2 linked regions of the Homo sapiens genome follow. The protein of the gene in region 1 purifies or fractionates together with the protein of each later gene. This does not show direct contact. Each region holds a gene or a part of one and is shown on either strand. Other genes may lie near its edges.

Region 1 (3,751 bases):
TCCCCATACATGTGTACTATGCATTTGATCTTGCCTTGATTTGGCATTTTGTTACTTCTGCTTTTCATTTCCATTGCAGTTGGTTGCCTCTTCTTGATTAGCTCCATATTATGAATCCTAATGTGGGGTGAGTGGCTGGGGTCGGTGGGTGTCTTTGGTTTCCCAGATTGTCCCTTCACTGGCATCCCCAGAATCTGGTGGAAAAGGCCTGTGAGCTCAGACACCTCTTTGCTCTGAGCTCACAGCAGGCCCTTTGCCTGCAGGGAGCAGTGGGCGAAGAGGATCTACTTAAGGGGTTTGTGGCTTAAATGGTGATGGAATTAGGAGGCTAACAGTTCTGCCTACTCTTTGGCCAAACCTCCTAAAAGAGTACTCAGGAGGAACCTTTTGAGAAGTGAGAATTCTAAGCATAATGAAATTCCGTAAGCATAGGCAGTGTTTTATATAGTGTTAGGCTAATAGATTCTTAGATACATTAAAATACTCTTTGACTAGGTCTGGACATAGCACTTAATAATAGTGTGCTCAACATGGGGAGCACATTTCCAGAATGTGAGAGTAGTTACTAGGCAGAAAAGAAAGAGACTAGGGTGGTGATGATCTGGAAACTTTGTCCCATCAGTGTCAGATAAGGAAGCCAGGGAGATTTAGTGTGAAGGAGGGGAAAACATGGTATAAACAGTTTGGGAAAAACAAAAAACAAACAAACAAAAACCCCAGGAGACTATGGTCTGAGGAGCAGAACCAGGGATAGGGATGGCAATTTTGGATCAGTGTCAAGAAAAACCTTGATGCCAGATAGAGAGCAGTCCAGCAGTGGAATGGACACAATGACCTTCCCTTCACCTGTGGTGCTCAAGCTGAGATTAAATTGATGATGAGTTGTGGCTACTGCCATCCTGGTGTGTGCAGAATTAATGCAGTTTTGTTCTAGAGGGCAGCTTTGTCTATTGAAATGTATTTTTGTTGTTTCTCTGCTTGACAAAGTTGGTATGAGAGAGCAGGCTTTTGTAATGATGCTGTAAGAGGCTCCGGATTTCTGGGCATGATGGGAGTACATTCTGGACATTGTGTGAGTTGAAAAGAGGCCCATGCTATGCAGATCTCTGGGACATCTCTAGATGTGATGTTACTTTTCTCTTCCCACAGGCCAATGGCCATGTGTCTCAGGATCAAGAGGAACCCGTCTACCTGGAGAGCGTGGCCAGAGTACCTGCTGAGGATGAGACCCAGGTGGGGCCTCTGCTTGGGTCTGTGTCTTCACCTTTCCTCTTTCACTGGTGTTCTTCGGAACCTCTTAGCAGAGTCGAGTGGAGAGAGAATAAATGTGTGATGATAGTGCTTCCGAAATTATATTTTTGGGGTAGGGTTTAGTGTTAGTGTTCCAGGTTAACTAGTGAAGCGGTCAGTGTATTTATAAGGAGTTGTGAGGTCACAGTGGAGACGGAGAAGCCTCATGGCCCATTGTATTTCCAGTCTCTTGACTTTCTAAGAGCTGCCGGAGGGCAGGCTTGTGGTCCTGCTGTTAAAGTCTTGTTCTTTCCTTGCTTCTAGCACACTGTAGCCATTGTCAAGGGAAGGAGGTCAGACAATTAGCCAGGCAGGGCCAGTCCAGAGCACAGACCAGGGAGCTGTGGCCAAGGTTGTGTATAGAGGAGTACTTGCCAGGGAAATGTGCCTCTTGTGGGCAAGCAGAAGTCTCCAGGGGAGAAGGGCCAGCACCATGCTGGGTTTCATGTGCGGCCATATTTAACCTCTACAGGACCCCTGTGGGGTAGGACTGCTCTCTCCCCTTAATGGAGGGGCAAACGGGCTCAGAGTGGTAAGCAACTTGCTGGATATTATTTAGCATTAACAGCAGAGGAGTCAAGATTCAAAATTAGGGTCATATGACTCAAACCAGCACTCCTTCTACTATACTTCTATCTAGTACTATATCACACTGATTGGTTGGTCTGTGTCTGTTTGCTCCTGAGCACAGAATCGTGGGTCAGGAAGAGATTCTAGTATATTTTGCAATGCAGAGCACCATGCCAGGTACTCATCCTGTCTCTGTTCCTACCCTTCATGAGGTCAGTCACCAAAATTATGATGTGGTGACTGCTTTGGGGTCCTTGGAGAAAGAGCTTGGGGAGGTAAGAGCTGAGCACACTGATCTCATCTTTGTCATTGCAGTCTATTGACTCAGAGGACAGCTTTGTCCCAGGCCGAAGGGCCTCTCTGTCTGACCTGACTGACCTGGAGGACATTGAAGGCCTGACAGTGCGGCAGCTGAAAGAGATCTTGGCTCGCAACTTTGTCAACTACAAGGGCTGCTGTGAGAAGTGGGAGCTGATGGAGAGAGTGACCCGGCTATACAAGGATCAGAAAGGACTCCAGCACCTGGGTGAGGGGCTATCTGCATGGTAGCTTTACAGAGCTCAGGAGTGTTTGCTGTCACTCCAAAGCATGATGGTATTGACCTGACTCAATTTCCACACTTAAGCCATGGAAGGAGACACCTTACATATTTGCACCGTCTAATAATAGCTGTCATTTGTGGTTGAGTGTCAAAACTAGATTAGGCATTGCATGTATGTATTTATTCCTTAGAGCAACCTATGAAATAGACATTATTAGCATCACCCCTTTATCTGAAAGGTAAAATTTAACTGAAAATTTTATGGTCTAAGTCCATAGCCTTTCTCACCATATGCTATCCCCTCCCTACTCACCACCACCTTGTAAGTTTTCTTACCTTAGAATAAGAATGCTTGTTCTGAAGATTTGGGAGGTAGAAAGTGAATCTACATACATGGCAGGAGAAGATAGCTGTTCCATCTGCACTTGGGCTCTTCCTTTTGTTCATTTCCCAGAGCATTTTACACTGTATCATTCAGGAGATGCCCAGGAAAATATCTGGGTCTGTGGTTAAATGAGTTTAGGGAAAAATACCTCATATCTTCATTACTGATTTATGGTAGATTTTTATATTAAAGGCAGAGAAGTCCTGCAGAAGAGAAATGTGTTTTGGCTGTTTTGAACTTAGCATTTCCTGAAATTATTTCACCACAGAATCTTCTCCTTTCCTCCCATCCCCAGTTGATTTGGTTCCTACAGAGCAACATACTGATTCCTTGCTTGGTAAGAGTGGTTGAAGTCAGGTTTCAGGCTCTCTTCTACCAGTAGCTCAAATTCATCAGTGTTAGGGGTCATCTGACTGACTCTTCACCCGATTACAGACTGAGGCCTACTGACATGGAGTCTGTTTTCCCTTTGGGATTGTTTCAAGAGTCTTCTCTCCAGTCGTCAGGACCTGGGGAACAGAACAGATGACTCCACGTGGGAACTTTATCCAGATTCTCTGACTGACTGAAACAGCTAGATAGTTCATTCTTTCTTGACTTTAATGCTGACTTCAAAATAGAAAAGGATATTGCACATATACAGTATCCTTCTACTTGGCAGTTTGTGCAAACTGGTGGAATACCTTTTCCTAAGAGTAGACCAGGCTGGGTGTGTTGGCTTATGCCTGTAATCCCAGCACTCTGGGAGGCTGAGGCAGGTGGATCACTTGAGATCAGGAGTTCAAGACCAGCATAGGCAACATGGTGAAACACCATCTCCACCAAAAACAAAAAATTAGCCGGGAGTGGTGGCATGTGCCTGTAGTCCCCAGGTACTCAGGAGGCCGAGGCAGGAGAATCGCTTGAACCCATGAGAAAGAGGTTGCAGTGAGCCAAGATCATGCCACTGCACTCCAGCCTGGGCA
Region 2 (3,751 bases), on another chromosome or scaffold:
TTGCTTGAGCCCAGGAGTTCAAGACCAGCCTGAACAATATAGTGATACCTTCTCTCTACAAATGATTTAAAAATTAGCTGGGTGTGGCCAGGCGCGGTGGCTCACGCCTGTAATCCCGGCATTTTGGGAGGTCGAGGCAGGTGGATCACAAGGTCAGGAGATCGAGACCATCCTAGCTAACATGGTGAAACCCCGTCTCTACTAAAAATACAAAAAAATTAGCCAGGCATGGTGGCGGGCGCCTGTAGTCCCAGCTACTCAGGAGGCTGAGGCAGGAGAATGTCCTGATCCCAGGAGGCAGAGTTTGCAGTGAGCCGAGATCACACCACTGCACTCCAGCCTGGGCGACAGAGTGAGACTCCGTCTCAAAAAAAAAAAAAAGAAAAGAAAATTAGCTGGGTGTGGTGGCACCACCTGTAGTCCTAGCTACTTGGGAGGCTGAGGCAGGAGGATCACTTGAACCCAGGAGGTTGAAGCTGCAGTGAGCCGTGATTGCGCCACTGCACTCCAGCCTGGGTGATAGAGTGACACCCTGTCTCCAAAAAACAACAACAACACACACACACACACACACACACACACACACACAACTGAGGTTCTAAGATTCCAGAATTCCAAAGGTCCCAGAACACTAGGATTCAGGGCCCTCCCCTTCTGAGGCCCTGGGGTCCCAAGGCTCAGATCCTTGTGTCCTGCCACAAGACCAGGTTGGGGCGGGAAGGAGGTTCTGACCCTGTCTGTCCTCCCCGACAGGCCCAGCTAACCTTTGCATTGCAGGCCCTGCCGGAAGAGGCCCTTGAGGAGTTTCTTGCAAGCCTGGCAAACGGTGGGCCGTGTATAGCTGTGGATGAGGAAGGTGTGCGGCACCTTGACCTTGGAGAGCAGCATCTTGTCCAGCTCAATGGGGCGGCCCGTATACGATGAGGCAGAAGAGGAGGAAGAGGATGACGGGGGACGGCGAGGCAGGAGTTCGGTGGTGCTACGGCTCTGTCGTTGGCAAGAATGGAGGGGACACATCAGTGCGTTGGCCCCATGCCTGGGCCAAGTCACCCCCCTAGCCACCAACCCGTCCCATCCCCCATCTCCTCACCAGCTCTTCAGCCGTGCAGGGCAGGGACTCGGAGGTGCCGAGGCGCACCGAGTGGCCACTGGCCAGAGACGTGGATGACAGGCGCCGTTTGCGGGCCCCACTACAGTTGTTGGGGATGCTGAAGGCACAGCGCTTGTGGTAGTTCAGCCCGCAGCCTGCAGGGGGCGCCAGAGAGTAAGAGACATGGCGTCTGCCCCTCCTAGGTCTCTTCTTGAGAAGTTGTGCCCTTTCCACCCAATCTCTCACCTGGTCCTGTCCCATCACCCCCCGCCAGCACGATCTCCTCCAAAAGGCACTACTATCCGTAAGTGTATCAGCCCCTTCAGGCCCACCCCTCCTTAGAGTTCTGCCCCAAGTTCCAGCTTGTAGCCCCACCATCACCCCATCTGTCCCCCAGACCCTGAACACACCCACACCCCTTTTCTCACTCCAACAAGGGACACCTCAAAGGCTCCCCCCAAAGCTCTGTCCCCAGTTTCAGCTTGTAGCCCTGCCATCACCCCATCTGTCCCCCAGACCCTGAACACGCCTCACACCCAAAATTTTCCCACTCCAACAAGGGATACCTCAAAGGTTCCCTCCAAAGCTCCACCCCTAGTTCCAGCTTGTAGCCCCGACATCACCCCATCTGCCCCCCAGGCCCTGAACGCGCCTCACACCCCACCTTTTCCCACTGCAACAATGGATGCCTCAAAAGTCCCCGCCAAAGCTCTGACCCAGCCCCAGTCCTCTATGGTAAGCACCTCCTTCTAGTCCTCCCCAAAACTCCTGTCCATCTCCCTAGAGACACCTGTTCCCCCTTCTAACCCTGACCTTCCTTTTTCTGAGGCCCCTTTGGTTCCCCCTCTTTCCCCAACCCCAACTTTCCAAAAGAAAATGCCTCTCCTCACCCCCACCCCTAAGGTCACTATCCCTCCAGGTCTGCTCACCCCCTGTACCCCACTTTCTCTTTTCTGTAGACCTGGAATCCAGGCAATCCCTAAGTAGTGTGATTAAATCTTAGTAGTGTGGGCCACGCATGGTGGCTCACGCCTGTAATCCCAGCACTTTGGGAGGCCAAGGCCGGCGGATCACTTGAGGTCAGGAGTTTGAGACCACACTGGCCAACATGGCAAAACCCCATCTCTACTAAAAATACAAAACTTAGCCGGGTGTAGTGGCACACGCCTGTAATCCCAGCTACTCCGGAGGCTGAGGCAGGAGAATCACTTGAACCCAGGAGGCAGAGGTTGTAGTGAGCTGAGATCACGCCACTGCACTCCAGCCTGGGCAATACAGCGAGACTCAGTTTCAAAAAAAAAAAAAGAGTTCTCAGTTGTACTCAGGTCCATTGTACCATACTAGGCAGAAGTATGACTTCTTATTGTCTTATTTTATTTTGTAGAGACAGGATCTCCCTGTACCCCCGGCTGAAGCACAATGGCACAATCATAGCTCACTGCAGCCTTCAACTCCTGGGCTCAAGTAATCCTCCTGCCTCAGCCTCCTGAGTAGCCAGAACCACAGACATACACTACCATGCCCAGATAATTTTTTTATTTTTATTTTTTTGTAGAGATGGGGTCTCGCTACATTGCCCAGGCTGGTCTTGAACTCCTGGGCTCAAGTGATCCTCCCACCTCAGCCTCCCAAAGTGTTGGGATTACAGGCATGAGCCACTGTGCCCTGCCTATTTTATCTTTTAAAATCCTCATCCATGGAGAAATCAGCTCAACTCCCTGTTTCCCACTGGACGTTCTGTATGTGTGCTCTAATACATCTCCAGTGATTCCAAACGATTCCAGGATCGCTTTCTATTCTGGAGTGAAGAATGTTCCTCCAGCCTTTGGGAGCCCTTCTGGTACCCGCCTGCTCCAGGCTTTCCAGTTCCACACCTCCTCATTGTAGGCACTGTCTTGGCTGCATGCTGTAATCACGGAGGCAAGCTTGGAGAACGGTGTTGGCCCTGCAAGAAGAGCTTCAGCAGGGCAAATGGTCTTTGCACACAGGAACCATTTCCCAGTGTTGGCCTTGAATCACTCATGTGCCTTCCAGAATTTCAGAATCTTATCTATAACTCTCAGAATGAGTCTCAGGATAGAGTTAAACTCCTGTCGGAATGTAGTCATTTGGGGTTCTCTTGCCACCATAGGAACTGGGACCATCATCTGTGATGCTGCACCAGTGAAGTCTGTGCTGATAACCCATTAGGACTTGATGACACCAGGGCTGTATCATGACAAAGACTGCATATGCTGAGACCTCAAGAGTTGGATATGGTGTGTGGACGATGGCAATATTTATAAGAGCTTTTAATGCACTGAATCAGTATCTGCAGGCCTAGAGTCCTTAAATAATACAAGTATACTTTGGACTGCATGATGATCTGGAACACAGGATATTGGAGAAACTGGATTTCTTTTTTTTTTTTTTTTTTGAGACGGAGTCTCACCCTGTCACCCAGGCTGGAGTGCAATGGTATGATCTCGGCTCACTGCAACCTCCACCCCCTCAGGTTCAAATGATTCTCCTGCCTCAGCCTCCCGAGTAGCTGGGATTATAGGTACCCGCCACCACACCCAGCTAATTTTTCTAGTTTTAGTAGAGACAGGGTTTCACCATGTTGGCCAGGCTGGTCTCTAACTCCTGACCTCATGATCCGCCCGCCTTGGCCTCCCAAAG

The links. The genes of interacting proteins can lie anywhere in the genome.
Region 2: the proteins of RFFL (region 1) and PRKD2 purify together in Homo sapiens (affinity purification with mass spectrometry; 4 studies listed by BioGRID and IntAct, with this or other methods). This does not show direct contact.

Annotation. Positions count from the first base shown.
Region 1 is NC_000017.11:35,015,005-35,018,755, reverse strand, and holds part of RFFL (E3 ubiquitin-protein ligase rififylin), read left to right. Parts: intron 1-1,149; coding exon 1,150-1,233; intron 1,234-2,175; coding exon 2,176-2,386; intron 2,387-3,751.
Region 2 is NC_000019.10:46,703,405-46,707,155, forward strand, and holds part of PRKD2 (serine/threonine-protein kinase D2), read right to left. Parts: intron 1,246-3,751; coding exon 1,091-1,245; intron 988-1,090; coding exon 765-987; intron 1-764.